Linked DNA regions of Homo sapiens: region 2 is linked to region 1. Evidence: fine-mapped expression QTL. A gene starts in region 1. The other region holds a variant in brackets. All regions are shown on one strand. Distances are from middle to middle. Region 1 holds the start of TOM1 (target of myb1 membrane trafficking protein). Region 2 overlaps TOM1 (target of myb1 membrane trafficking protein).

Region 1 (14,486 bases):
CAGACCTTCTTGCAGTTTTTATATCATTGTTTTATTTTGTTTTTTAAATAAATTCTAGTGGTTTGATCCAAATCCCATTACAGTTGTATAAAGAAATAAAATTTTGTACTTATATTATTAAAAATCACATTTTTAATATTTGTAGTCCAGTCTCAGCTGTCTTTTCCCTAATCATGATCATCATAGTTGCTATGAAATTATAAAACCTGTTTTTCACTCTATTCTACCATAATTTTCTTAAGAAAAAAATCAACCCACAATGGAGATTAAATTTCTAATCTTAGCCATTTTCTTAATATACTCCTTACTCTGCTTCTATTAACTTTTACATTGTAGAGGTTCTCATTTTCTCTTTTGCAAATTGCAAATTTAGTGAATCTGATAATTCCACCTCCATTTATTGGCAAATGAAACTATGTGCATTATGGTGTTGGCCTAAATCAAGAAAATGTTGATTAATCTTATATAAGGGTTGCATCTGAATCATGTGCTAAATGATATGTTTCAGTACTGTCCTGTTAGCATTACAGTAATGCTGTTGATAAGTTACTTAATCTTTATAGGCTTCCAAAGTCCCATCTATAGAATAGTGTTAAAGTCACTTCCCTGTCTGTAGACCTGCAGCCAGCCAGCCTGACATGAATGTTTAATAACATTATGAACACTGAATATATGGAGATATGACCTTTCAAGGTAAAAACTTCAGTGCAAACACAAGGTGTTAAAAGTCATAAATAGTAAAATAATATGATTAATTACAAGGCTAATGTCTTATGGAAAGGCAGCAAGGAAGAGACTACCGTATCACTGAGTGACTATTAGAGTGATTTGCATACTTTGTCTCACTCATCCTCCGCCCAAAGCCTTAAGAATATTATCTCCCTTTATAGATGCGAAAAAGTACTTTTCCTAAGTTTATACTGCTAGTAAATGGCAAAGGCAGATTAAGAACAGTGAAACAGCTGACCCCAAACCCTAGGCTCTTTTCTACCCCAAGCTACTTTCAGATTTAAATCATGTCTATAATTCATCAGAATGCTTTCCATTATCTCAAGTCCTGAGCGAATGTGATTGTGGGAATGCTGTCTCAGATCTTTGCATTGTTCGGGTATCTAGCTGGCTTTCACTCTTGTCATACTATTGTCTTTAAATTTTGAAGGCAAGGTATCTTGATTTTTGTCTGTAAGCACTTAAAGGATTTAATAGATTACATTTATGCAGACTGTCAATCTTAAGAAATTTGAACATTTTAACCCTCAGTAAGGCATGATATTAATTTTACTAAAACACTTAAAAAGTAAATTGAAACACTTTTTACTAAATCAGTTTGCTCCTTATTAGCACACTTTTTAAAGACAGTTTTAATCAGTTTTGTACTAACTTTAATGTTTGCCATTTACATCCCTATCTACTATGTTGATAAAATCCATATACTGGCCAGGTGCAGTGGCTCGTGTCTGTAATCCCAGCACTTTGGGAGACTAAGTCAGGAGGATCATTTGTGGCCAGGTGTTTGAGACCAGCCTGGAGAATATAGCAAAACCCCATCTCTACAAAAACTAAAAGATATTAGCCAGGTATGGTGGCATGCATCTGCAGTCCCACCTACTCAAGAGGCTGAAGTGGGAAGACACTTGAGCCCAGGAGATCAGGGCTACGGTGAGCTACAGTTGTACCACTGTACGCCAGCCTGGGTGACAGAGACTCTGTCTTTAAAAATAAATAAATAAATAAATCCATATACTTCCATTTCTGTTTCAATAGCTATATAGTAATCAGTTTGCATGGAGTTGTTTTTCTTTTTTTTTTTGAGACGGAGTCTCGCTCTGTCTCCCAGGCTGGAGTGCAGTGGTGCAATCTCTGCTCACTGCAAGCTCCGCCTACCAGGTTCACGCCATTCTCCTGCCTCAGCCTCCCGAGTAGCTGGGACTACAGGCGCCCACCACGGCGCCCACCACCACGCCCAGCTAATTTTTTCTATTTTTTTAGTAGAGATGGGGTTTCACCGTGTTAGCCAGGATGGTCTTGATCTCCTGACTTCGTGATCTGCCTGCCTGGGTCTCCCAAAGTGCTGTGATTACAGGTGTGAGCCACCGTGCCCAGCCTGCATGGAGTTTATGATTCCACTTCCTGTTTGGGGGCATATGAGTTGTCTCTGTTTTTGTTTTTTTTTGTTTTTTTTTTTTTTTTTTTTTACCATGAATAAAGTTTACAAGAACTTGTTAAAAGCTTAAAGGAAGGGCCAGAGATGGTGGCTCATGCCTGTAACCCAGGGCTTTGGGAGGCTGAGGTGGGAGGATCACTTGAGCTCAGAAGTTCAAGGACCAGCCTGGGCAACATAGTGAGACTTTGCCTCTAAAAATAAATAAATAAAGGTTAATGGAAGAATCCAAAAGAAGTTCATGCTAAACATAACTCCATATGACCAAGCAATAAGGTTAAGTGAAGAAAGACATGGAAAGTGCCTTGACCTGAAGGTCATCTTAAATGGCCTTCTCCCCGCTTATACTCCAAATACCATTACTGAAACGTAGATCTATTTAAGCTTTCATGTGCTAGTTACTGGGTTAGACAATAGTGGGGAGCAAAACAGAAATAGTAGCCCAGCCCCCAGGGACATCCAGACTCGTGGGGGCAAAGGCATTTGTGAACAGGTCTCATGAGTGTTGTGGAAACACTTCAAAGCAGTTTTTATATTGTACAGTAAAGACATCGGACCCCATGGCTGCTCAAACAAGTGAATCTACAGAGGTGATTAAGTTCTAATTTAGGTTTGTTTTTTTTTTTAAGACACAGCCTTACTCTGTCACCCAGGCTGGAGTGCAGTGGCACGATCTCAGCTCACTGCAATCTCTGCCCCCCTGGGTCCAAGCAATTCTCATGCCTCAGCCTCCCAAGTAGCTGGGACTACAGGCGTGTACCACCACACCTGGCTAATTTTTGTATTTTTAGTAGAGACGGCATTTTACCATGTTGGCTAGGCTTGTTTTGAATGCCTGACCTCAGGTGATCCACCTGCCTCAGCCTCCCAAAATGTTGGGATTACAGGCGTGAGCCACCACACCTTGCTTAATTTAGGTTTTCTGTCATCCAAAATTTGTGCAGTCAATTTACTAGCCTTTCAGATTTAAAAACCACAAACATCACAATAAGTACTTAAGCACCCACAGTAGCCAGACTACTAAGGCCATGGTTATTGTATTTTTGGAGTACATGCCAGAAGAAAAGGTCATAACCCATAGATAGGTATCTAGTGTGTAGGTGTCAGCAGACACACCACACACAGCCAGGAAGGCTGAAGAGATTAGAATCACAACGCTGGGAAAGGCCTTTGAGATTCTTAGCTTGGGGTCCACGGTTGTACTTCAGGGACCCCAGAAACTCCCTGAGGTTATAAGCAAAATTGTATCGCTGCCTTTTTTCTTCAGAAAGGCTCATGGCTTTTGTCAAATTCTCAAAGGAGACTGTGACCTAAATAAAATATTTTTTAAAAATGGTTACGAGTCCTTGATCTAATTCCAGTATCTAGAGAAAATGGGAGCTATGTTTGGCTCACACAGTAAATTTATGGCAGAGACGGGTATTAAAGCCCCACTCGTGACTACATCTGTGCTTTTTGCCATCCTGGGCGCTAGAGGGAATTGCGCTGCAATTCATTAAATTGCCTCTCAGTCTCAACAGATGACAAACCCCTTGCCCTTGCCTCTGATTTAAGGTAAGATAATTTGGGCTGCGAGCAGGGTGCATCTTGGAGCGGGGAGACCTTGACATCAAACAGGAAGAGTCTTACCGGGACAAGGAGACAACAGCCCAGAGAGGCTGTCACCCAGGGTAGGTGTGCAGTCACAGTGAGGTCCCAAGGACTAAGGGCTATGACCCTAAGAGTCTCGGCTTCTGTGTAACTCACCCAAGTCACTTCCCTGGTCTACGACCCAGTTTCCCAAATGTGTAAAGGGTCCTTTAGACCTCGCCCTAAAAGGTCAGGGGCGTGGCTTAAAGAGGACCGCGCTTCCCGGGCCCCGACCCCAGACCCTACATCGTGTGTGACGCCCGCCGCCGCCGAGCAAGCCGCAGTGAGGTCATCGCCCTCCGCCTCGGGGGCGGGACCCTGGCGTCTCAGGGCGGGGCTTGTGGTCGAGCTTCGCGGTGCCACCGCCCCGCCCACGCCTCCTCGCCGGCCTCCGAGTGCGTCACGTGACGGGTCGGTGGCGCTGGCGGTTGCTGTCAGCTGATTCCCGGGGTTGGTGGCAGCGGCGGTAGCAGCAATGGACTTTCTCCTGGGGAACCCGTTCAGCTCTCCAGTGGGACAGCGCATCGGTGAGTCCCTGGAGCCCCCCACAGCTCCGCCCCGGTGCTCCGCACCCAGCTTCGGTCCCCTGGGAAGCCTCCGGGTGCCTAGTCACGGAGGCAGGGAGGGCAAGGAGGCTGGCGTGTAGCTCTCCGACCTGGCTCCGCCCAGCTTTCCTCCCACTCTTGATTGACAAGAACTTGGGCCATTAGGAAGCCTTGGCTTGTGATAGATGTATATGACAGCCAGTAGGTAAGGAGAGAGGGTGGGTCCGGATGCCCACGGCGCAGCCAATGTGCGTCTGCTGGGGTCCCCAATCGAGGGAGAAAGTTTTCGTGGTTAAAGGGACTGCGTGGTTGGCAGTGGCTGGGCCACTCTGCTGGGTCCCGCCGCCTGGGCTCTGGCCAGCTCCTTCCTGGCTCACCGGGCCCTCCGGACACAGACACCTGAGAAGGGCTAGAAGTCCCTTCTCCCAGGACCGCGAAGCCCCGGGCTTGGCGTCTTGGGGCCAACTGGCCAGAGGGGCCCAGCGCCGGACAGCCCGCGGCCAGGCCTCACAGACCCGGGTCTCAGGACGTGTCCGCCTGGGCTCTTTTCTCGACCCAACCTCAAATGGACCCGCACAGACTCTCAGAACCTGAGCAGACAGTGGTCGGACAAACCCTCCTGGTCAGCCCATCTCGGTGCTCCGTAGGTGGGGCAGCCGGGAACTCGGGCCAAGCCAAGCCCAGGGCACCTGGCGCCTGTCTGCTGGTCCGTGGTTCTCTGCACCCTGGTGACAGGATACTCACAGTTCTGTGACGCAGCCTCCCTGGGCCGAGGTTTCCTCACCTGTAGTTGGCGGGCAATAATGGTCCCCACCTCCGTGGGCTTGTTGTGAAGATTAAATTCCTTAATAAATGTGAAATACTTAGAACAATGCCTGGTACATGGCCAGTGCCATATAAAAAAAAACAGTTGTAATATTTATTATCACTGGGCTGGGCACGGTGGCTCCCGCCTGTAATCCCAGCACTTTGGGAGGCCAAGGCGGGCAGATCGCTTGAGCCCAGGAGTTCGAGACCAGCCTGGGCAACATGGCGAGACCCCGTCTCTACAAAAAAAAAAAAAAAAAAAAATACAGAAATTAGCCGGGCGTGGTGGTGCGTGCCTGTGCACCCAGCCACTCGGTAGGCAGAGCTGGGAGGATTTATTGGATCTGGGAGGTCAGGGCTGCAGTGAGCCCTGATGGCGCCACTGTACTCCAGCCTGGACGACGCAGGGAGAGCCCATCTCTTGAAACACATACACATACACACACACACACGCACACATATATATAAAAATATACACATACAAACATACATATACATACACATACATATATATTATATGTATTTACACACACACGTTGTTCCTGAGATCACCAAGTGAAGGTTAGGAATCCCTGGAAATCGCTTGGCAGTAGATCTCATAGGTGCTCATTCTTGGGCACCAACACCATGAGAACCGACATGCCTTCACCCAAACAGCCACACTTCTCCGGAGGATGGTTTGGGTGTTCCGCATTCTTGCATGAAGAAACCATCGCATTACCGTGAAATTACTCTTCATCTTTTTTGATGACGACTTTTCGTCTTAAGTCCAGACTGGGAAAACTTTAAGATGAGACATATTTTCCATTCTTAGTGTCTTGCGAAACCTCACGAAAGCTTGTCGACCCGGCTCTGTGTTGTAATCGCCACCGTGGCTGTCGGTGGCTCTTCCGAGGTTTTGTAATCAATGCTCTCCAAGGGGGAGGTGGCAGTCCAGGATTTACACACCAGGAAGCTCCTGAACCAGGGAGAGGAACTGCCCTCTCAAAGGACCCCTGCCCTCCCCGGACACACACCCACCCCACAGTGAGTCATGGTTTTTTGGAGCTGAAAAGAGAAGGCAGCTCTCCTCTCATCTATATTTCTCTGACTACAGAAACCACTGCTTTTATCACATGCCAAGTTTAAGACTTACTACTTAAAAATAAACAAGTAAATAAAAGACCTGGCTTCAAAGTCAGCCACATACTCTTAAGGCTTTCTGGAAAAGCTCACCTGGGTTCTGGATTTCAGCTAATCAAAGCAAACTTCTCTTCTTACCTTGAAGCGTTGCCTTTCTTGGGCAAGAAATACTTCTGTGCAAAGAGAATGCTACTAAATCATAATACCTTAAAGCACAAATGGAATTTTGCAGGTAAAAGAGCCTTACCTTGGGGATCTTCTAACCCAGTGGTTCTCATCAGAATTCCTAGGAGGGCTTGTTAAATAATGTCGGGGCCCCAACCCCAGAGTTTCTGACTCTCCAGGTCTGCGGTGGGACTCTAGAATGTGAATTTCTTTTTTTTTCTTTTTCTTTTTCTTTTTCTTTTTTTTTTTTTTTTTTTTTTGAGACTGCGTTTCGCTCTTGTTGCCCAGGCTGGGGTGCAATGGCACCATCTTGGCTCACTGCAACTTCCGCCTCCCGGGTTCAAGCGATTCTCCTGCCTCAGCCTCCCAAGGTAGCCGGGATTACAGGCACGCTCCGCCACACCCGACTAATTTTGTATTTTTAATAGAGATGGGGTTTCTCCATGTTGGCCAGGCTGGTCTCAAACCTGAACAGGTGACCCACCCACCTCAGCCTCCCAAAGTACTGGGATTACAGGCATGACCACCGTGTCCGGCCTAGAATGTGAATTTCTGTTGAGTTCCCGGGTAATGCTAATGCTGTTCCAGCCCATCCCCTTCATTTTACACTGGCGGAGACTAAGGTCCAGAGAGGGGAAAGTGGAGGCTGTGACTCATCCAAGACCCCAGTAAATTGACAGCAAAACTGAGTCATTGAAATTTAAACCAAAGCTGAAGAGGCTCCAAAAGTAGAATTAAGAGTTTGAGTTAATCCCCTCAGTATTCCATATTCTTTTAGATAAAGAGGCGGAGGAAGTACTGCTCCCTGGCTGTGATTACTGATGACACAGTATAGCTGCTTATAATTCTGTAAACCAGGCCCCTCCTTGCTGCAGGAGTACCATCTCTTCTCAAGCCTGCCGACTCCCATGCCCTTGTTGATAGTAGAGCTGTAGAGCCATATGGAATTGACATCCCTCAGATGGTGATTCTAATGATGCTAATCAGGAATGAGTGTCAGTCACTGGAATCACAAAGTTCTCATCCACCTCCCCTCCCAACACACACACACACACACCCCTTTGTGCTTGCTGGTCCCTCTGCCTGGGTTGCTTGCTCCTGTGCCCCCACTGAGGAGCTCCAGATCACCCTTCAAAGTACAGGGCATCATCACCTCCTCCCTGAGGCTTGCCCCAAGCCCGACGTTGCTCTTTTACTCTCCCTTTATCCTAGATCCTCAGGCCCCCTTGCCCTATGACTTTGGGCTCTGAATCTCCGCTTCCTCCTTGGTAGAATGTTACTAACAGCATCTGCCTCACAGGGTGGTTGCTGGAATGAAACAAGATAGTCCTCTGAGAGTGTCTCGCACAGTGTGAGTGTATGGAAACATTAGCTCTTCCTGTCATCATCACCATCATCATTTTTATTATTTCTTTTTTTTTTTTTTTTTTGAGACAGAGTCTCAAAAAAGGCTGGAATGCAGTGGCACAGCCTCAGCTCACTGCAACCTCTGCCCCCCAGGTTCAAGTGATTCTCCTGCCTCAGCCTCCCGAGTAGCTGGGATTAGAGGTGCACACCACCATGCCCGGCTAATTTTTGTATTTTTAGTAGAGATGGGGTTTCACCATGTTAGCCAAGCTGGTCTTGAACTCCTGACCTCAAGTGATCCAGCCACCTTAGCCTCCCAAAGTGCTGGGATTGCAGGTGTGAGCCACCACGCTTGGCTTATTTTTATTATTTCTACCCTCATTATACTAATATGCCACCGTCCCACTCTGTTAGTGGTTGTGCATGTCTGTCTCCACAGCTAGGCTGAACCTCTTGAGAGCAGGAACTGTGCCTTATTTCTCCAGACCCTCAGCACCTAGCACGGTGCCTGGCACATAGCAGGAAGGAGGAAGGGAGAAAAGGAAAGTAACATTTTGTGAGCAAACACCATAATAACTCTGCCAGGTATTCTGCTAGCGTCCTGGGTATTAATCTCATGGTGACCCTGTGCGGTTTTGCTATTTTTTTCCCATTTCACCAAAAGTCAGTCTAAGAGAAAGCATCGCTTTCCAGGGTTCCACAGCCACTCAAGGTCAGAATCCAGACCCAGGTCTTCTTTTGTACCCTCACCACACTGCCTCGAGCTGCCCAGTGCTTCTTTTGAATTGATGTCTGTCCCACCCTCCAAGAGCCACAACTCTTATTCTACCCTCAGATAAGGACATGTACATGGGTCTCACACTTGCAGGCCCCTCCCCTCATCGATGAGTAGGGGAGCTTCCCAAGGGCAGCACCCGTAGCTGAGAGGATTCCAGATCCTTTGTACCAGCTGGTGTTGTCACAGCCCTCTTCTTTCAAGGATTTCAAACCCTTTCCAGATATTCTCTGCAGACAAATCTTACTGGATCTGTTTTGTTTTTTGTTTTTTGTTTTTTATGAGACAGAGTCTCACTCTGTCGCCCAGGCGGGAGTGCAGTGGCGCGATCTCGGCTCACTGCAAGCTCCACCTCCCGGGTTCACGCCATTCTCCTGCCTCAGCCTCCCAAGTAGCTGGGACTACAGGCACCCGCCACCACACCTGGCTAATTTTTTGTATTTTTAGTAGAGACGGGGTTTCACCGTGTTAGCCAGGATGGTCTCGATCTCCTGACCTCATGAACCACCCACCTCGGCCTCCCAAAGTGCTGGGATTACAGGCGTGAGCCACTGCACCCGGCCTACTGGCTCTGTTTTATAGACAGATATCAAGAAACCCATTTTCCATTTCTGGCTGTCAGCTTACCCCTAAGCACTTGGAGTCCAAATCCTAGCTGATTGCCAACAGTAAGTTGCAAACAACAGAGATGGTAAATATGGGCAGTCCCTGGGGATGAGCCTCAGTGGTTGGGGTGGTGGGAGCTGGGTGTGAGGGGAGAAGAGCCCAGAGCCTGAAGACTGAGCCCTGGAGGGGAAAAGTGAAAAAGTCAGAGAGAGCTGTCTTTGAATCCACAAAAGCCAAGCCGGGGGAGCCACAGGAAGGAATCACAGAAGTGAGAGACCACTTCAGGCCCTTGGGGGCCAGTTGGGGAATGATGGGCTGGAAAGTGGACACTTAAGCGATGTTGAGGAGACACCAGGCTGGGAGGCGGGACACCTGGTTCCAGCTCTGGTTCTGCTCCTAACTATGTCACGGTCCCTCTCCATTGCCCATCTCCCCTATTGGCAACACAGAGGTGCTGTCATTCTCCCTCTGCTTCCCAGAGGATTGGTAAGGAACGACAGAGGTCATATATAGGGACAGGGAAGGGTTGATGCCAGAGGGAAGAAAGAAACTGATGGCGGGCCAGGCACGGTGGCTCACGCCTGTAATCCCAGCACGTTGGGAGGCCGAGGCGGGTGGATCACGAGGTCAAGAAATTGAGACCATCCTGGCCAACATGGTGAAACCCTGTCTCTACTAAAAATACAAAAATTAGCTGGACGTGGTGGCACACGCCTGTAGTCCCAGCAACTTGGGAGGCTGAGGCAGGAAAATTACTTGAACCTGGGAGGCGAAGGTTGCAGTGAGCCAAGATCACGCCGCTGCACTCTAGCCTGGTGACAGAGTGAGACTCAATCTCAAAAAAAAAAAAAAAACTGATGGGTGCTGGGGAGGACTGATAGAACTGAATGTGCAGGGCTCCAAGGGCATGGTGTGTGGTTACAGGAATAAGCAGTTCGGTTTCAGTATAAATAGCTATCCCCAGAGCCTTGCAAAGATGGAACTGGCTGCCTTGTTCAGTAGTGAGCTCCCCACCACTGGAGCTGTGAAGGCAGAAGCCGGGGTGGGGAGGGCGACTATAAAGAGGATTCCTGTGTTGGTTAGCAGACTAGACCAGGGTCAGTGAGCTTTTTCTATAAAGGGCCAGATAGTAAATACTTGTGGCTTCGTGAACCAGATGGTCTCTGCTGCAACTACCCAGTTCTGCCATTATAGCACAAAAGCAGCTACATAGGCCATAGGTAAATGAATGAGAATGACTGTGCATAAATAAAAATATTTATGGGCAATGAAATTTGAATTTCACGTAATTTTCACATATCATGAAATATTATTCTTCTTCAGCTTTTTTTTTTCCCAACTATTTAAAAATATAAAGACCATCTGTAGCTCGAGTACCATACAAAACAGACTGAATTTGGCATATGGGTTCATAGTTTGCTGACTTCTGAATCGGAGCAGCTGGCCAGAGGCAGAATGATGGAGCACACTGTTCCTCAAAGTGGGGTACCAGAGCACCCACACTGGGGATGCTTGAGGGTGCTTATCCCCACAGTGTGCCCATGTGAGCCCTAATATCTTGAAGCTTCTGTTTCCTGATCCGTAAGTACAGGACCCACATTAGATCCCCAAGTTTCTGTCTTGAGGATGACAGAGCTTTGTCTAGAAAGGGCTTTGTATCAGCTGTACACATATTAGTAGAGCCCAGGGTGAGCTTGAGTCAGACTGAATGGTCTGAGTCCTGGTTCAGTCCTCAACAGCTTTGTTACCAGGAGCAAGTTACTTAACCTCTCTGTTCTTCAATGTCCTCGTCTGTACAATGAGGATAATAATAGCACCTATCAGATAGGGCTGTCGTGTTGTTGTGCTATAAAGCACTTCCTGCCAGACAGGAAGTCTCTGTAATTATTAGCTGTTGTGATTTTTCACTGGTGTTATCATTCCTGGGACCCAGTCTAAGTTAGTAGCCAAGCTAAGTGCCAGCCCAAGATTCTGACTCCAGTGCAGCCTTTGTGATGGTCTTTGTGTCCCTGGCAAATGAGCGGTCACTGGCTGGGTGGCCACCACATTCACAGACAGGTCAGGTTTCAGGCTGTGGGGAGGAGCAGATTCTTACTTGGAAATTAAGGCCTTTGCCTTCCCCTATGGATAGAACTGGTGAATAGGTTTTATTCCCTTAGTGAGCTCAAAGAAATAAGAGTATAGTCCCAGACTTCCACTCTTCTGGTTTTAGAAAAAAAAAAACCCAAACCCTCAGTGTCTCCTAATTAGCTTGAGGCCATCACCCCATGAGAAGCAGGGGGATTCAGGACAGTTTAACTCTTTACTGCCTTACTAAGGAGATCTTGATCTAGGCCAGTGCCCTCCAAACTTCTGTCTTTCATGTAGCTCATTTGTGATTTGTGTCTACCCCCATGCCACCTTCATTATTATTTTCGTAGGGTTTTCTTTTCATTAGCTTATCTGTTAAAATTTGACCTCATCCTATATAATTATATCCATGAAATCATGGCTTTGATGTTCGTGTTTTTTTCCTATCCTGCATTAAAGTAAATAATGCAGGAGAGGAAAAATTTAATGTCCCTCTAAAAATGTCTTTAAGTTTGCCCATGAGCCCACCTGGCATGATCCCAGGTAGCTCATTTTGATCACTGGGACGTAAGCAGCCTGAAATGGGGTCACAGCTTAGTCTCCGCATCAGAAGAGCTGGGTTCAGGTGCCAGCTCCGCCCCTTCCCGGCTGTGTCCCCCAGGTCTCCTCCTCAAGGGACACGGGAAACTTAGAAGTTGATAGAGCACTGCAAAGTGCGGTGGAGAACCACTGTGCAAGCCCTGAGGAGGGGAACTGGGCCTCGCTCCTGCTGGGGAAGGTAGAGAAGGGAAGGACGGAGCCTGGAGTCTTCCCAGAAGGGAAGGACGGAGCCAGGGGAGAAGGGAGGGGGAGAGAAGAACCAGCCAGACCACAGGGGCTGAGACAGACAGAGAATTTAGGGACAGACAGAGGGGTCTACTGTTTGAACTTGTTTGTGTTGGTGCAGTATAAACCCTGTAGTGGTTAACTTTATGTGTCAACTTGGCTAGGCCAGGGGAGAAAGATAGTTGGTCAAACATTATTTTAGATGTTTCTGTGAACGTATGCCTTAGATGAGATTAACATTTAAATCACCAGACCCGCGTAAAGCGTATTGCCCTCAATAACATGGGTGGGCCTCGTCCAATCAGTTGAAGGCCTGAATAGGAAAAAGACTGACCTCCCCAGAACAAGAGGGAACTTGGCCAGCAGGCTCCCCTTGTCCTTGCACTTGGACAGCATCTGTTTCCTGGATCTCCAGCCTGCCAGCTCACCCTACAGATTTTCAACTTGCTAAGCCTTCACACCTGCATAAGCCAATTCCTTAAGCGCTCGCTCTTTCTCCTGTGTGTGTGTGTGTGTCTGTCTCTCTCTCTCTCTCTTTCTTTCTGCTAGTTCCTTTTCTCTTTTTTTTTTTTTTTCTTTTTTTTTTGAGACGGAGTCTCACTCTGTTTCCCAGGCTGGAGTGCAGTGGGGCAGTCTTGGCTCACTGTAACCTCCACCTCCCAGGTTTAAGCAATTCTCCTGCCTCAGCCTCCTGAGTAGCTGGGACTACAGGCGCGTGCCACCACACCTGGCTAATTTTTATATTTTTTGTAGAGGCAGAGTTTCACCATGTTGGCCAGGCTGGTCTTGAACTCCTGACCTCGTGATCCTCCCGCCTTGGCCTCTCAAAGTGCTAGGATTACGGGCATGAGCTACCACAGCCAGCCTAGTTCCTTTTCTCTAGAGATCCCTGACTAATACAAAGCCCACTCCACCCCTGACCATCCAGATTGTCAGCAATACCTTTTACACTCCCAAGTGGGGAGTGAAAACAAATGCCATCTGTACCTCAGCCAGCCACTTCAAGCCTCTGCCTTCACAGCCTCACTTCTTACCTGGGGAGTTTTAGAAAACCTTTCTTTATCTCACTGACATTTCCTTTTGTTAGGTACTATAGTTAGTTACATCGACTTTAACATTGTGGGTTGCGGAAGCAATACCCTCTGTAAGGTATTTTAGGGTTTCTCTTGTGGTTTATGGTTAAAAAAAATACAGGGGAGAGGCAGCCAGGGTTTTGAGGAAGGGTGGCTCAGCAAATTAGGAGATGGATGGAACTTTCCACGCTGGGTCTGGAAAGAGTTATTCCTTTGGAAAATAGTTTTCAAGACAAGTTTCTGGCTGAAAAAAAAATAGCTTCTGCATATTTGTGATTTAAAAATCTCTTATGGGGTGCTTGAAATTCTCAATCATGTTGTGGTTGATATGTTTGTAGAGGATAGCATTTATTTTGGTGCTTGAAATGTATACACTCCTCCTCACACATCCCTGGAAGGTGAGTGCTTTGGTCATCTTTATTCTGTAGAGGAGGAACTGAGGCACAGAGAGGCCGAGGAGTTACCCAGGCTCACACAGCTGGTAGGTGCTGGAGTCTGGGCAGGATTTGTCTGTGTCTGCATCCCATCCTCCCAACTTTTCCATCTCACCGATTCCCCCTTAGAACTGAAAGAGGCCAGGCGCAGTGGCTCACACCTGTAATCCCAGCACTTTGGGAGGCCAAGACAGGCAGATCGCCTGAGGTCAGGAGTTCAAGACCAGCCTGGCCAACATGGTAAAACCCCATCTTTACTAAAAATACAAACATTAGCTGGATGTGGTGGTGGGCGCCTGTAATCCCAGCTACCCTGGAGGCTGAGACAGGAGAATCGCTTGAACCGGTGAGGCGGAAGTTGCAGTGAGCCAAGATCGTGCCACAGCACTCCAGCCTGGGCAACAGAGTGAGACTCCATCTCAAAAAAAAAAAAAAAAAGAGAGAGAACTGAGAGACCTGCTGGGTTTCCCTTTGAGTGACAACATCTGTGTCCATCTAGAATGAATTCGTTCAGTAGTGGCTTCTTCTGTATTTCTGCCTAACCTTCTTGACCACATTGGTTTCATCCTCGTGCTTGCATTCTCACGGTAGGAAGCACAGGTGAAAGTACCAACTGTCTGTGTCTCTGTTACCAAGAAAGCAAAACCTTCCCCAGGAGCCGCCCAAGAGACACCCGCTTCCATCTCTGTGGCCAGAAGTCCCAGGGCTACTTCTGGCTGCAAGGGGGTCTAGAAAAGCTAAATGCTGTGAGCCCAGGGGGAGCATCTTCCACAACTATTGGAGTCAGCTCCACATGGTAGGGTTAATAAAAATTTCACATAGTCACTGAGTACAGTAATAGAAATACAGTATCTAGCAAGGACAGGTAAATGTGGCGTGTGGGTTCCCACACTGCATTTCCAGATGGACAGCATGGCTGGCCTATAT
Region 2 (15,065 bases), 26 kb after region 1:
CGGCAAATTTTTGTATTTTTAGTAGAGACAGGGTTTCACCATGTTGGCCAGGCTGGTCTTGAACTCCTGGCCTCAAGTGATCCACCTGCCTCAGCCTCCCAAAGTCCTGGGATTACAGGCATGAGCCACCGCGCCCGGCCAGGTTCTGCACTTTTAACAAAACGCTCTCATCTTTTCTCAAAGTGACTCTGCTGCTGGAGGTCCAGGGGCCACAGGTTGTGAGTCCCTGCTAAGCAATGGGCTAGGAAGATTCTGATGTGATCAGAACCTGGCTGGATACACAAAACAGGTGGGGCACAGGGAGGATGGGCCAATAAGAACTGTTCCAACTCTCCAGGGTCTCTGGTGTTAGGTAAGGGGGCTCTATTCCTAAGCCCACCCTTTTTCTTGTCCTCCTTAGTCCCAAAGATGCCCTCCGAGCAGTAAAGAAGAGAATCGTGGGGAATAAGAACTTCCACGAGGTGATGCTGGCTCTCACAGTGAGTGCCCCATCTGTCTGTCCTGTGGCAGGACTACGGTCCACTGAAAGTCACCTCCCCTCAGACCCAGCAGGACTCCCAGCCTCCTCTGAGCTCCTCATTTGAGAGCTGGAAAGGTCTGTAGGCAACGCACTGTCCTGTCTACACTGCAGGCGGATGCAGAATGGCAAGAGGCCATTTGGAAAGGTTCTCCCCAATCCCCCAGCATGGGAACAGACGCTTACATCACTCCAGAACCACTGGCAGGGAGAGCCTGGGCCAAAGGACCTGTGGGTGACATTGAAGCTCAGTAAACCCAGGCCTCCGCGGGGGCAGGGAGGCCGGCTGACTGAGTTGGGTGCTGCTCGGCACTTTGGTGCTCTGGCAAATGAATGTAAAATAAATACCAGTGGCTGAGAACAGTCTTGCCCACACCACTGAACCAGCCCAGATCTCAGGGCGGCCAGACACACGTGGGCCTCCTAGCCGTCAGCATGGGTTTGGCTGGGGAAGATATAAATGCTGTCCCACCCTCCTCCACAAGCAGCATTTATATCCAGGTGAATTGGCTTAAGCAAAAAGCAAAGGCAATTCCTGCAGTGGGAAGTGGAGAGTGGGGAGGGAAGTTCAGTGCCTTTTCCCTGGGCCACAGGCTCACCAGTCGATTGACATCTCAGATGCTCCTTGATTTCCTCTTGGAGAGCCCCTTCTCTCTAGACCATGTTTAGCTCAGAGACAGCATTGGGATTCTGCGTGCACTGACGCCAGTCAGGGAAGGAAGTCCAGCCCACACACCATACCTCTGCCCACCCTAGGCCGTGCCCTCCAGTAAACAAGTCCCCCAGTCCTGGCATTGTCCCAGTCCTCCACATTCAAGGGTCTCACTCCAGGAAGTCCCATCTCCTCTCCCGGGCCTCCTCTCTGGGACACAGGAGGAGCCACGAGGGTGGGGGTTCTGAGCACCTCCTCTCCTCTGACCAAGGTGCTCGACGGCACCTCTCGGCCCTCCAGGTCTTAGAAACCTGTGTCAAGAACTGCGGGCACCGCTTCCACGTGCTGGTGGCCAGCCAGGACTTCGTGGAGAGTGTGCTGGTGAGGACCATCCTGCCCAAGAACAACCCACCCACCATCGTGCATGACAAAGTGCTCAACCTCATCCAGGTGAGTGCCAGGACAGGGCAGGGCACGGCCAGGAAGAGCTGTCAGTGCAGGAGCTTCCTGCCCAGTGGAGAGTCGAGGCCATCGTGTTTGTCCCAGGCTCCGCTTCTCATTTCGGGGCGTCTCGGTTGTCGGCTGGTGGGATGTTCTGTGGGGAGGGAGGCTTGCCAACTGCGTGCTTTGCTGTGGAGTGGGCAGGGCAGATGTAGTTAAAAAAAAAAAAAAAGCAGGGAAAGAATGTCTGTTCTCTGTCTGAGTGCCAGGTGGGCAGGCTCACAGGTGAGCTGTGGTTACCGGCTGTGTCCCCTTGTCCCCTCTCAGTCCTGGGCTGACGCGTTCCGCAGCTCGCCCGATCTGACAGGTGTGGTCACCATCTATGAGGACCTGCGGAGGAAAGGCCTGGAGTTCCCCATGACTGACCTGGACATGCTGTCACCCATCCACACACCCCAGAGGGTGAGAGAACTGCCGTACCGGGAACCAAGGGAAGGGAGGCAGGACTCATCCCCAGAGACATCACCAGGCTGGCCCCTGACTTCCTGGGCTCTTGATGTTCCCAGGAGCCCTCACTGATCCTGTTTTCCTCCCACTAGACCGTGTTCAACTCAGAGACACAATCAGGACAGGATTCTGTGGGCACTGACTCCAGCCAGCAAGAGGACTCTGGCCAGCATGCTGCCCCTCTGCCCGCCCCGCCCATACTCTCCGGTGACACGCCCATAGCACCAACCCCGGAACAGGTAAACGAGCCTGGGGTCAGAACCGTCAGGTCCAGGCAGGTGGGCCACACACGTCAGGGAGGGCCCCCTGTCAGAATTTACCATCCACGGAGCCTCCACTTCTTCCTCACAGCAGCCCACAGGGTATGTGTGGTTCTTCCTGTTTGAGCGATGAGACTCAGAGAGGTCCATTCACTTGCCCAGAGCACACAGTCATCAGAGACAGTTGGGATCCAAGCTCACGTCTGTCTGACTCCTGGCAGGCACTGCCCTGTACCTTGGCCATTTTCCAACCTGTGTTTTCTGCGGGGCCCTCCAACAGCACCATGGAGAGGTGTCCTGTACGCAGCCCCTTCAGGCCAGCTCCACCTGTGTGGTTTCTTACACACTCACAGCTTTCATTTGAGCTGGGCATGGTCACGTGCGTCTGTGATCTTAGCTTCTCAAAGGTTCAGGCAGGAGGATGGCTTGAGCCCAGGAGTTTGAGACCAGGCTGGGCAACATAGAGAGACCTGTTTCAAAAAAAAAAAAAAAAAAAAAAAAGGCTTCATTTGAAGAGAGGTTCTGCCTGAAAAGTTTTCAAACATCTGTGCAAAAAATAAAAAACATATGTACATTGTACCATGCTGCTTCCCATGAAGTCTCAAGAAGGTCTGAAGCTTTTTTGTTTGTTCTGAAACAGTCTTGCTCTGTCACCCAGGCTGGAGTGCAGTGGCACCATCTAGGCTCACTGCAACCTCTCTCTCCCAGGTTCAAGCAATTCTCCTGCCTCAGCCTCCTGAGTAGCTGGGACTACAGGCATGAGCCACCATGCCCAGCTAATTTTTTGTATTTTTAGTAGAGATGGAGTTTCATCATGTTGGCCAGGCTAGTCTCGAACTCCTGAGCTCAAGTGATCTACTCGTCTTGGCCTCCTAAAGTGCTGGGATTACAGGCATGAGCCACCACACCCAGCCAAGAAGGTTTGAGGCTTAGTATGAGATTCTAGGGGACAGGTTTTCCCAGCCCTCTGACTAGCTTTGAAGGATTACCCACCTCAGAGCAGGTGGCACCCTGGGCATGTCACTTCCTTCCTCCTCATGGCCCACTGGGCCATGAGCTGCTTGTGGAGTGCCATGGCTGCTGTATCTGCTGAGTGACTTCTACAGCCATGACCAGCTCGTAGAGCTGGGGGCTTGTCATTCTAGACTTTTGGCTGCTGGGGTGGGGGCAGAGGCCTGCACACTGTGGAGACACCCACGTTAAAGGTGTTGTACACACATCAGGCCCATCACATCCGCGGAGCGTAAAGGTGGAGCTGCTGAGTGTGCTGGTGAGTTAGACACGGATGTGTGATGGAAAGAAAAGTGAAGCTTAACTTTCCCAATAAGCGTCCCCACTGCCCACTTTTTGTATCATTTGAACTCATTCTCACCCTAACCTATTTGAAGAGAAACTTCCATGATTTGTTTTCTCATAGCAAGTTATGAAATCACCCCTCAGAGTTACAGATATTACTAGAAAATTTTGCTAACTGGACAAAATTATTAACGCACTGCCCGTTTGCCCCAAGAATACTCTTGTCTCTAATCCTAATGTAACCTCATATACATTTCTGTTACGTTAGGATTGGAGACAAGTTCTGTTTAGAAATAACTCCAAGAACAGTTTTTATGTTTTATTTTCATGTTGAAAATCAGTCAGGTTTACTTCAGCCTCAAAGAGCATGTTTATGTAAAATTAAATGAGTGCTGACAGCGAGCTGCACTTTTTTTTTCTGAGTGGGTTAAAGGTGTGTAAAAAATTGTAAAACCACCTTGTGATTGTCTAACTCAGTTATGATTTTAACCAATTTTCTGAAGTCTAGCATCTGTGTGGATTAAGACGCTAATTACTTCCAATGCAAGAAGGTGCTTGCTAAACAAAACTAATCTTTGTTTAATTCGAGAGTCCCCTTTTGTCTCTTGGGACATGTTAAGACATCAGGTGTGCAGTGATGTTACTCCCAGACTCCTCTGTAATTAAGTCCCATCTGATTTGGATACATGGGGTTTGTGATCAGTAGTTTTTCCACTCACTCATACCAAGAGTGTTCATTAAGTAAGCCAAATAGATCAAACATTTTGCAGGTTTTGGAAGGTGTCAGTGAACCATAGTGGATATACTACTAGTCTCTACACTCCATTTCTTCATCTATAAAAGCAGGGATATTGATGTCTACCATGGTAAAAAATTAAGTTAGCAATATATGTTCAATGCTTGGCACTTATTAGGTAGTCTATAAATGGTAGCTGCTGTCACAATCATGAATGTATATAGTGACACTCTGAAATCAACTATAACTCAGCCACATGATTTAGAATGTACCAGCATTTCTCAAAACATAAAAAGGTTCTTCAGTCAAATAAATCTTAGAAGCTTTCAGACTGATCTTTTCCCAGGCATTCCCAGTGTGCATGAGGGCATTAAACACCCTACAAGGTCCCACAGCATAAGATCCTTATACCAATGGCCTTTCACAAGCTAACCTCTTTGAGGAGACTGCAGCTTTATTGAAAATGTTTCCCCAAGCCCAACTCCTTGGAACCCTTTGACCATTGAAAACCTGCCCACATCCCTTGGAACAAGTGCTAAATCTGAGTTTCATATTCAAGGTGGGGTACAGGGCAAGGACTATCCTTAGATGAGCCTGGGACACCAAAATAGACCAGAAACAGGACAAAATCCCAGTCCACTAGGAGGAGAAAGAGGGCAGAAGCCCAGTCCACTAGGAGGAGAGAGAGGGTGGAATCCCAGTCCTCTAGGAGGAGAGAGAGAGGACGGAATCCCAGTCCTCTAGGAGGAGAGAGGGCGGGATCCCAGTCCTCTAGGAGGAGAGAGACGGCGGGATCCCAGTCCTCTAGGAGGAGAGAGGGTGGGATCCCAGTCCTCTAGGAGGAGAGAGAGGGGGGGATCCCAGTCTTCTAGGAGAGAGGGCGGAATCCCAGTCCTCTAGGAGGAGAGAGAGAGGGCAGAATCCCAGTCCTCTAGTGGGAGAGAGAGAGAGGGCCTGCAGCGTCCCTCCCCGCCTTGTGGGGAGCCACCCTCCAGGGCCTTGTTAGCTGCTGTGTTAGACCCAGGAGATGCTGGAGTCTTCCAGCCACACGTGGTGGCTCATTCCGGTGTGGAGATGGTAACGGTTGGTAGCGCCTCTGTGAGGGGTCTGTAGAAGGGGTGGGGCAGGCCTCTAGTGCAGAGCTGTCACTTTGGGAGCCAGGAGGGAGGCTGCCTAGAGAGGCTGCTGGGAGGTCGGCTCCCTGGTGCTGCACCCAGGGTTGGTGGTACTGGGTTCTGTCGCTGTGAGTAACATGGGCCCCAGAACCCTGGCTTCTCTCACCACGATCAACTGTGTGTTTCAGATTGGGAAGCTGCGCAGTGAGCTGGAGATGGTGAGTGGGAACGTGAGGGTGATGTCGGAGATGCTGACGGAGCTGGTGCCCACCCAGGCCGAGCCCGCAGACCTGGAGCTGCTGCAGGTGAGCAGGTGGCACCACCCCCTGGGGCTCAGATGACTCCTGCCCAGCTGCCCACATGCATTCTTTCCCAATCCTCATGACAGTCTTCATGGCTTACTCCATACTCCTTGGTCACAGTTGGGGACATGTTACCACCAGGGACTTTGGACGCCATCAGATTGGAATCAGATCGCAGCTCTACCACTTTCTGGTTTGAACAAAGTAGCCCCCCTGGCCTCAGTTTCCTCATCTGTAAGATTGCTCTAACAATAGCCTTCATGGCACAAGTTTGATGTGAGTTAAATAAGGTATTGCATGAAAAACACGCAGGCTTGTGCCTGGTACAGAGTAAAGCACCCAGTAAGGGGTCCTGAGAAAAAGCTGGAAGGTGAGATTTACACCATTCAGAATCCGAGACTCAGCAGGCAGGTGTGAGAGGGTGGTGCCAGCCTTGAGATGCGCCAGCCACTGATCTTGGGGAGCCAAGGCAGGTGGAGCTAGTGGTTCCTGCTCCCGGGTGTCACATGGTATTCCCACGGCCCCAGCCCAGATTGGGGGTCACTGGAGCAGAAGGGACACTGAATTTGGCAAAAAGCACCCTCCCCATGGAGGCCAGTCATAGAGGCACCAAGAGAGCTAGGAATCCCCAAGGCCCAGGAGTCACCAGAATCCATGAGGAGACAGAGCGCTTCGTGTAACTGTTCGAGTTCCTACTGCTCGTCCACCAGGCCTCAGGCTCCTTGAGGGCAGCGCTGTGTCTTCCTCGCCACCGTGTCTGTGTGCCTGACCGAGCTGACTCTGCAGGGGTCCTCACTTGGTGGTGCAGGGTGGGGAGAAAAGGAGTAGCCTCAGAGTCCAGTGAATACACAAACTTGAAACCCAGTAAGGGCTCCGAAAGAGAGAAGACTGCGCAGGCAGCCTCGCACGCCCCAAGCCAAGGCCATGAGATGTGAGCAGTCTGGGGACTCAGAAGGCTGAGCAAGGTGGATGCAGGGACAGCTCCCATGCACTGGGCACTTCCCGTGTCCCGGGCTATATGTGGACACTTGGTTCACATCGCTCACGTAATCCTGACCACCCCCATTTTCCAGGTCAGGAAATAGGCATAGGGAGATCAGATAACACGTCCAGGGTTATATGGCTGGTAAGTAGCAGAGCTGCGATTTGAACCCGGGGGCCTGGCTCCAAGTGCTGCTCTTCTGCTCTTGAGAGGGGCCAGCAGGGAAGCAGAAGCAAAGCCACCGTGTGCTTGGTCATAAGAGCAGGAGGGGAGCCCACAGGATGTTGAAAGGCACCCGCCCTGTCCCCGTGCTAAGGGCGATGAGGAAATCCCGGAGGCCTGACCTTGGAGGGGGCAGGGGACAGGGTCCACATGACAGCCAAAATAAACACTGGGCAGTGCCGAGCCTCAGCGTTGCCTCCAGGAGAAAGGCGTGCTGGCGTGAGGCCACAGTC[G/A]GCAATGCCGGGCAGCTCCCTGGACCTCAGGACCCAGGCACCTGCCGTGACCCAGGAACCTTCACCTGGTGGCAGGTACCTGAAGAAATAATTGACCAATCTTAAAAATGAAAACCCATATGGCTATGGTTTTTTATTTTTTTATTTTTTTTGAGACGGAGTCTTGCTCTGTCACCCAGGCTGGAGTGCAGTGGCGCGATCTCGGCTCACCGCAGCCTCTGCCTCTTGGGTTCAAGCTATTCTCCTGCCTCAGCCTTCCAAGCAGCTGGGATTATAGGCATACACCACCATGCCCGGCTAATTTTTGTATTATTAGTAGACACAGGGTTTCACCTTGTTGGCCAGGCTGGTCTTGAACTCCTGACCTCAGGTGATCCACCCGCCTCGGCCTCCCCAAGTGCTGGGATTATAGGCACGAGCCACCGGGTGTAGCCATTTTTTTTATTTTTCATAAGTTTAAATATGACACCTAGTGGTTAAAAGTCGGTGACGTGATAACTAAATGCAGTGTAGGATCCTAGAACAAACAAAGGACATTAGAGGAAAAACTAGTGAAACCTGAATAAAGTCCGCAGTTTAGTTAATAGTATTTTACCAGTTTTAATGTTTAATGGTAGTTTACCAGTTTTGACAAATGCCAGACTAAGGGGAAGCCAGGGTCAAGGGTATATGGGAACTTGTGGTACTATCTTTGCATCTCTTCTGTAAATCTAAAATTATTCCAAAGCTAAAAGTTTGTTTAAAAAGACAAAAAATCAGGCAGTGAGAAAAGTGAGGCAAAAACTCGAAATCGAGGTTTGTGGCTAATGGTTGCAGTCATCTAGTTCATTCTGTATGCTTTGGTTGCAAAAATCACAGCATACCCCCAGAAGTTGTGGTTTGTTCAGCCAGCCCCCTTTGCAGACTCAGTTTTTTTTTGACTAAGCAAAGATGGTGGCACAACCTTTATTCTGGAATCTGCACGAAGCCAAGTTAAACCGGCAGCACAGTTGGACATGTTGATGGTTTCCTGTGGATTAAATTTTAGCATCTAACACTTGGAAGTGAAGTTCAAGTTCATGTTTGTAGAACCCAAAAAGCTGTTCCGTGGAACCTTGAAGTCCAGTTTGGGCACCTCACCCTCCTCCAAGGCTTGTGCAGGGGCTGGAGGCCCGTGCATTAGAGATGGCCTCACTTGGCCAGGCGCGGTGGCTCACGCCTGTAATCCCAGCACTTTGGGAGGCCGAGGCAGGCAGATCGTGAGGTCAGGAGATCGAGACCACCCTGGCTAATATGGCGAAACCCCGTCTCTACTAAAACTACAAAAAAAAAAATTAGCCAGGCGTGGTGGCAGACGCCTGTAGTCCCAGCTACTTGGGAGGCTGAGGCAGGAGAATGGCATGAACCCAGGACACAGCTTGCAGTGAGCCAAGATCGCACCACTGCACTCCAGCCTGGGCGACAGAGCTCCGTCTCACAAAAAAAAAAAGAGACGGCCTCACTCTGAGTCATGTGACTGTGGTTGCCTCACTTCCTTTCCTGGCAGGAGCTCAACCGCACGTGCCGAGCCATGCAGCAGCGGGTCCTGGAGCTCATCCCTCAGATCGCCAATGAGCAGCTGACAGAGGAGCTGCTCATCGTCAATGACAATCTCAACAATGTGTTCCTGCGCCATGAACGGTAGCCCCAGCACCTCCCCTGGCCTCTGGCCTACTGCCCCAACCCTCTCCCTTCCCTTCCTCCCTGTTCTCCTGGTCTCATGCCATCTGAGCCTTCTCTCGTCCTCCTCTCAAACACAAGGCAGGCTCCTAAGGGCCTGTGCCCTCAGCTGTCTTCTTCCAGGATGTTTATGAGGGCCCCTCCTTCCAGCCGCCCTGTATCTCCTTTCCAGGGTTAGCGCTGCTGCCTGTGCCCAAGTCCAGCCCTGGGAGATGGTCACAGGTCACAGCTGAGAGCACGGCCCTGCAACCAGACTGGCCTGGTGTGTCCTCGCCCACTCCACCACTTCCTGGTTCTGGGGCCTTAGACAAGTGACTTCACTGCTGCAAGCTACACAAAACATTTCTGGCTAACTTAGGCAGAAAAAGAATTTGTTAGGATAATAATCTTTATTAAATGGGTAGCTTTCAGAATCCAGAGAAAAGTGAAACTGATGTCTCCCAACAGAACAAGAAAGATGGATCCCAGGGCAGCTCAGATGTCTCAGGAGCAGAAATTCCTGGACCATCTCCCCAGGGTGCTGCCATCAATAAATACATCAGCTCAAACACTTGTCCACAAACACCTGTCCACCTTTTTTTTTTTTTTTTTTTTGAGGCACGATCTTGCTCTGTCACCCAGGCTGGAGTATAGTGGCATGATCACAGCTCACTGCAGCCTCAACCTCCTGGGCTCAAGCAGTCCTCCCACCTCAGCCTGCCAGGTAGCCGGGACTACAGGCATGCACCACCACACCCAGCTAATTTTCTTTTCTTTTTTTTTTTTTCTTTTTGCAGAGACAGGGGTCTCACTGTGTTGCCCAGGCTAGTCTCAAACTCTTGGCCTCAAGCAGTCCTCCCTCCTTGGCCTCCGAAAGCATTGGTATTACAGGCATGAGCCACCACACCCACCTGCCCACCTTGTATCATTCTGTTCAAGAGTCACATCCCCAAGAGAGACTTGGATTGGCTGAGCTTCATTGTGCCTACCAGCTGGGGTATGGGAGAGGGCCCTTTGATGGCAGCCCCACCGGGATGATGTGAAATGGGGGAGGAGCAGTTCCTCTAAAGAGTACTTAGGTGCTATTACAAAAGAAGGAGAAGGGCTGGGCGCAGTGGCTCACACCTGTAATCCTAGCACTTTGGGAGGCTGAGCCGGGAGGATCACTTGAGGCCAGGAGTTTGCAACCAGCCAGGCCAACATGGTGAAACCCCGTCTCTACTAAAAAATACAAAAAAATTAGCCGGAGGTGGTGGTGGGTGCCTGTAATCCCAGCTTACTTGGGAGGCTGAGGCAGGAGAATTGCTTGAACCCAGGAGGCAGAGGTTGCAATGAGCCGAGATCGCACCACTGCACTCCAGCCTAGGCGACAGAGCAAGACTCCATCTCAAAAAAAAAAAGGAAAGAGAAGGAGAAGGATTGCTGGGTCTGCAGAAATTGTGTGCCCATCACACCTCCTCTGTATCTGTAAAATGAGGCTTGTGGCATAAGTGAGAGTCCATGAAACAGTGTCTGTAAAGCGCTTAGCAGTCCAGGGTGTCTGATAACTGACATGAGTTATTCCAGCCTCCTCCAGCCCCTTGTTCATTTTTTGTGTCTTTCTCCATCAAAAGACACTCACTGATTGATTCTAAATCAGTGGAAAGTGGGGGGTACCCTGCAGGTCACGTCTGCCTAGCTTCTCCTGCTCGTTGGCCCAGTGGAATGAAAGGCCTCTTCCCTGCCATTTTGGGGTATGGGCTGTGAGGTGACTGAGGGGCCCCATCTGGTAGCAGCTGGTACCCTCAGATATCCACAGTCATTAGGCTTAATATCTGACTGTGCTTTCAAGCTCGCAGTCACTTATACCCATGTCCTAATTTGGGCTTCAGCACTTCAGGGAGGCAGGTGCCTACAGATACTAGACAAGCAGACTAAAGTTCAGAAGGAACATAATTTACCCGAGGTCATGTGATAAGTGACAAGGCCACGACTTGAACAGACCCCACACTAAAGTCTTCTCGATCTATCACACCGGCCCCTAAGTAGCTCCATAAAACAAGATTAGAGATACATGTATCTTTCTTACAGCACTGAAGAGAGCACTAACACACACACACACACACACATACACACACACAAATATGTAATTGAAACAAGTTTCATAAGACAGTCCTTACCTTTACTGCGTGCCATGCATTCCTATTTTCTTTGCTGTTCTAACCTATTCCTGTTTATTTGTTTCATGCTACTCATGACTAAGGTTGCCTTATAATTGATCATCCAAATTGGGACACTTTTGCAAGGGAAAGAGGAGCACTGCTAGTTACCCAGGGACAGCAGGCATGAACTGGATCTGTCCAGGGCACACCAGACGTGTCATCACCCTGATCATAACCCACCGTGTTGATGTTGAGACCCACAGTTTGAAAAGCTCTGCCTGGCCGTGTGTGGGGGCCTGTCTCAGTCTGTCTCCATAACTCGTGTCTTTTCTGTCTTGTAGGTTTGAACGGTTCCGAACAGGCCAGACCACCAAGGTAAAAGTCTTCTTTTCTGTGACTAGATCAGGCCCTGTTCATGGGAAGAAGGAGTGCCATTCTCACCTCCCTCCCCTAGTAAACTGGACAGGGTGGTGCTGTCTTATCCAGGCCCATAGAGAAATCCCCTTCTAACTTTTTATGTCCCTGTCCCTTTAAGGTAAATAAGGCTGTGCCACCACCTGATGCCCCAGGGTCTCCCCAACCTCCCAGGGAGTCCAGTTGAGCTGGAGCCAGAGGGGAGGAAGGAAATTCCCTGATGCCCAGTCCTAGCTCCTGGGGCCCTGGTGACAGATCCCTGGGCAAAGCCTGCAAGCCACAGTGCTTGGGGCAGAAAGGAACGAAGCTGCAGACAGCGGGGATGATCAGGGCATCTCCCTTCCCACCAGGCCCCAAGTGAGGCCGAGCCGGCAGCTGACCTGATCGACATGGGCCCTGACCCAGCAGCCACCGGCAACCTCTCATCCCAGCTGGCAGGAATGAGTAAGTGTGGTTTGGAGGGCTCCAGCTGAGGGTACATTATGGTACTGTGGGCACCCCTGCAGATTTTCGGGGTGCCCTTGTTATATACCCACAGCAGAGTGTCAGTCTGGACCCCACCTTGCTGGGGTCCCAGGCTGAATCTTGCTGCAAGGTGGGGCACTCGGGGTCACTGCCCCTGGCAGCCCCACAAGTCCTGAGCCGCCTTGGATCTCAGAAATCCTACCATCCTAGGATTGGCCCTCTACACTGAATTCTCCATGGCTTCAATCATCTGCGTGAGCTTGGGCAAGTTCCTTAAACCTCCTGAGCCTCTCTTTCCTCCTCTTTAACAGGAGTAGGGAGCTCGTGTATGAGAAGCGCTTAGACCATGCCAGGCCCAGGTTGCACTCTGGCTGAGTAGTTGGCCATTGTCACTGTTATCACTGTGATAGGTTTTAATATAATTTACTGTCTGCTTCATGCCAAGCCCTAGGAAATCATTAGCACCCCATTTTGCATCACTAATGCTATACTTTTTGAAAAAATCGACTACCCATCTGATTACTGTCCTCCTGCCCAGCCACTTCCCCAGCAGAATCAATGGATAGCGTTTTGACTGTTCTCTAACGCTCACAGCAGCCCCAAGAGGGGTGAGTAAACTAAAGCTGGGAAGAGGAAGCCGCTTGCCCAAGGCCCCACAGCCAGCAGCAGGTGGCCTGCCTCGCGCATTCCCCCACCCACACGTGCCACTTCCCCAGCACCAAGCCCTGGGTCTGGCAGCAGGTAGCTCAGCAGCAGCTCACACACAAGCTTGTGGATGGGTCTTTCACGTGGCCTTTCTGTCCCTGCAGACCTGGGCTCCAGCAGTGTGAGAGCTGGCCTGCAGTCTCTGGAGGCCTCTGGTCGACTGGAAGATGAGTTTGACATGTTTGCGCTGACACGGGGCAGCTCACTGGCTGACCAACGGAAAGAGTGAGTGGCCTGGCCCTGCCCTGGTCCCCTGCAGTTCGGGTGGCTCTCGGGGTTCTGGAACCCGGTTTTATGGTGGCACACCATGAGGAAGGGCACACGGACCCTGCTTAGTAAGCACGCCCTTAGTATCCCCTAAGTCAGTCCAGCATGGCCTGGGAGCCCTGTGGTCAGTTGACAGACTGCGCTCCCCACAGGCCATGCTGGGTGGGGGAGGGGGAGCCTAATGACCCACTGTATGCCAGAATCTTACATAGTCTGATCAGAGGGGGAAACTGAGGCACAGAGAGGGGCAGGCTCATTTGCCCCAGGTCAAGGAGCTAATATTTGGCAGCACTAGGTTAGGAGCCTAGGGCTGTCTGGTTCCAAAACACAGTGTCTCCACCCCCCGCCCCCCTCCCTGCACTGTGTACCGCATAGTAAGCCCTCCAGGAGCAGGGAAGTTTCCTGATAAATCCTCAGGGACTTTCAAGTCAAGTCTTTTTCTGTTGTTCCATAGCCACCGTTAATTTCCAGAGAAGATTAAGCAGGTTCTGTCAGCCTTGCCCCAGAGCTGGGGCTCTGCCCTTCCCTGTGCACCGTGCATTTTCAGGGGGTACTTTCAGCAGCATAGGCACGTGGCCTGAGTGTGTCCACCAGGGTCTGACCCCTTGCCGGGACCTGCGGGAGAACTGGCCCCGTACAGGCTTGTAAGAGGAACAGTCTGCTTGATGTTTTCTTCAGCCTTTTGCCCACTGTGACCCCCAGGGCTGAGCTGTGGGCAGCCAGGATTCTTATAGCTAAGGAAAGTTCTAGATTATGGGATCTTCCCACTGACCCCACTCAGCTCCTTAGAGGTCATTCTGGTGTCTTTTGGAACTTTGTCAATGGGCCTCCAGAGAGCCCAGGGATAACCTCTCCACACCCACAAATCCAGGTCCAGGCTGTAGCCTGCTAGGTCCTTAGGGCTGCCCTGGCTGTTAGCTGTATCTTTCTTTAGTCTGGGCAGAGTCTGTACTTTTAAGCCCAGGTACCCTGGGACCAGCAGCTGTTGCCATGGAGTTAGGGGTGCTGCCGAGGCTACCCTGCAAAGGCAAGCTAATGAGTGTGATGGGACTTGCAGCCAGACACGCCCATCCACAGAGGCCCCAGCAGGCAACACTGCTGGCCATACTGGAGAACCCTGGCGCCTGCCCTGGTCACCAGCCTGGCTGAGGTATGCTGTTGCGCTGTCCTTCCTCTGGGGAGCAGGCTCCGGGGGACAGGGAAAAGCACACAAGGAACTTGTCCTCTAGGGCCTGCAGTCTCATGGGAGAGTGACATGCACCAGGACCACCGCTGTGAAGGGCTAAGTGCTGTCCTGGAGGGGGCACCAGGCTCTGTGGACACAGAGGAGGGAGCATGCAACTCTGCGGAGGGTACTCAGAGCTGGACCAGGTGCTGGGTGATAGGAAGGCCATTTCAGGCACTAGGAACAGCATGTGCAAAGTCTCAGAGGCAGGGCGGGAGAGAGGTGCCCTGGCTCCCGCACAGCAGCTGGGAAAGATGCTCTTCACACAGGGAAGGGGGCAGGATGCTGAGAGGGTGGTGGGGCCCACTGGGCTACAGAGAGGCAGTTGATTTTATTCTAACATGAGCAGGAGGGAGCACAGGAAGGATCTTTTTTCTTATCAGATTTTCATCTTTGAAACTGCCTTCAGCTGAGCACAGCTGAAATGACATCATGCACCTTCTCAGGCCATTGGTTCTCCTGCAGGCCCTCCCCAGGGCTTGGTTTCCACCCTGGCAGAAAACATCCAGCAAGGTCAGGCGTGGACCTGAGCATCCATTTCGTCTTCCCTTTGTTCTCCTGCCTGGCTGGCCCCCTTAAATGCTTCTGGTGGATCTTCCAGCTCTGGTCACCTGACTGGCCTTTTCTGCCAGCTTGGTGTCCAGCCCGCTCCTCCCTGTACCTGCCTGGCTCCCCACTTCACACCAGCCTGCAACCAGCTCTGCCCTGGCTGGCAGGGAAACCAGCTCCTTATCAGCCGCTGTTTCTGCTCCAGCCTTGACCACAGCTGGCACCGTCACAGCCTTCCTGCAGCCAGTCCTATCCACTCAATGCCAAGGAGTAGCAGGGCTTCTGGGCGAGCCACAGCAGAGACGCCTCGGCTAGGCCTTCACAAAGGCAGGGGTGTCCTTCCCCCGCTTTGTCCGCAT

The links. PIP is the estimated chance that this variant, and not a neighbour inherited with it, causes the effect.
Region 2: its variant is fine-mapped to the expression of TOM1 in whole blood (TOPMed, PIP 0.98).

Annotation. Positions count from the first base shown.
Region 1 is chr22:35,295,664-35,310,149 of GRCh38, forward strand. It overlaps TOM1 (target of myb1 membrane trafficking protein), which reads left to right and starts at 4,231. Exons shown (of 15, transcript NM_005488.3): 1 at 4,231-4,317. The coding sequence starts at 4,266. HMGXB4 (HMG-box containing 4) reads left to right here. Exons shown (of 11, transcript NM_001003681.3): 11 at 1-144. RefSeq lists enhancers at 3,806-4,328, 4,255-4,404, 4,329-4,851, 4,805-4,964, 5,375-5,896 and a silencer at 13,573-13,642.
Region 2 is chr22:35,321,559-35,336,623 of GRCh38, forward strand. TOM1 (target of myb1 membrane trafficking protein) reads left to right here. Exons shown (of 15, transcript NM_005488.3): 3 at 401-479; 4 at 1,470-1,619; 5 at 1,938-2,072; 6 at 2,210-2,356; 7 at 5,713-5,829; 8 at 8,789-8,922; 9 at 11,423-11,456; 10 at 11,846-11,939; 11 at 12,770-12,890. MIR3909 (microRNA 3909) reads left to right here and starts at 14,082; the gene lies at 14,082-14,200. RefSeq lists enhancers at 1,372-2,571, 7,018-7,312, 8,802-9,302. The variant G/A (reference allele first, on the strand shown) is at 7,264.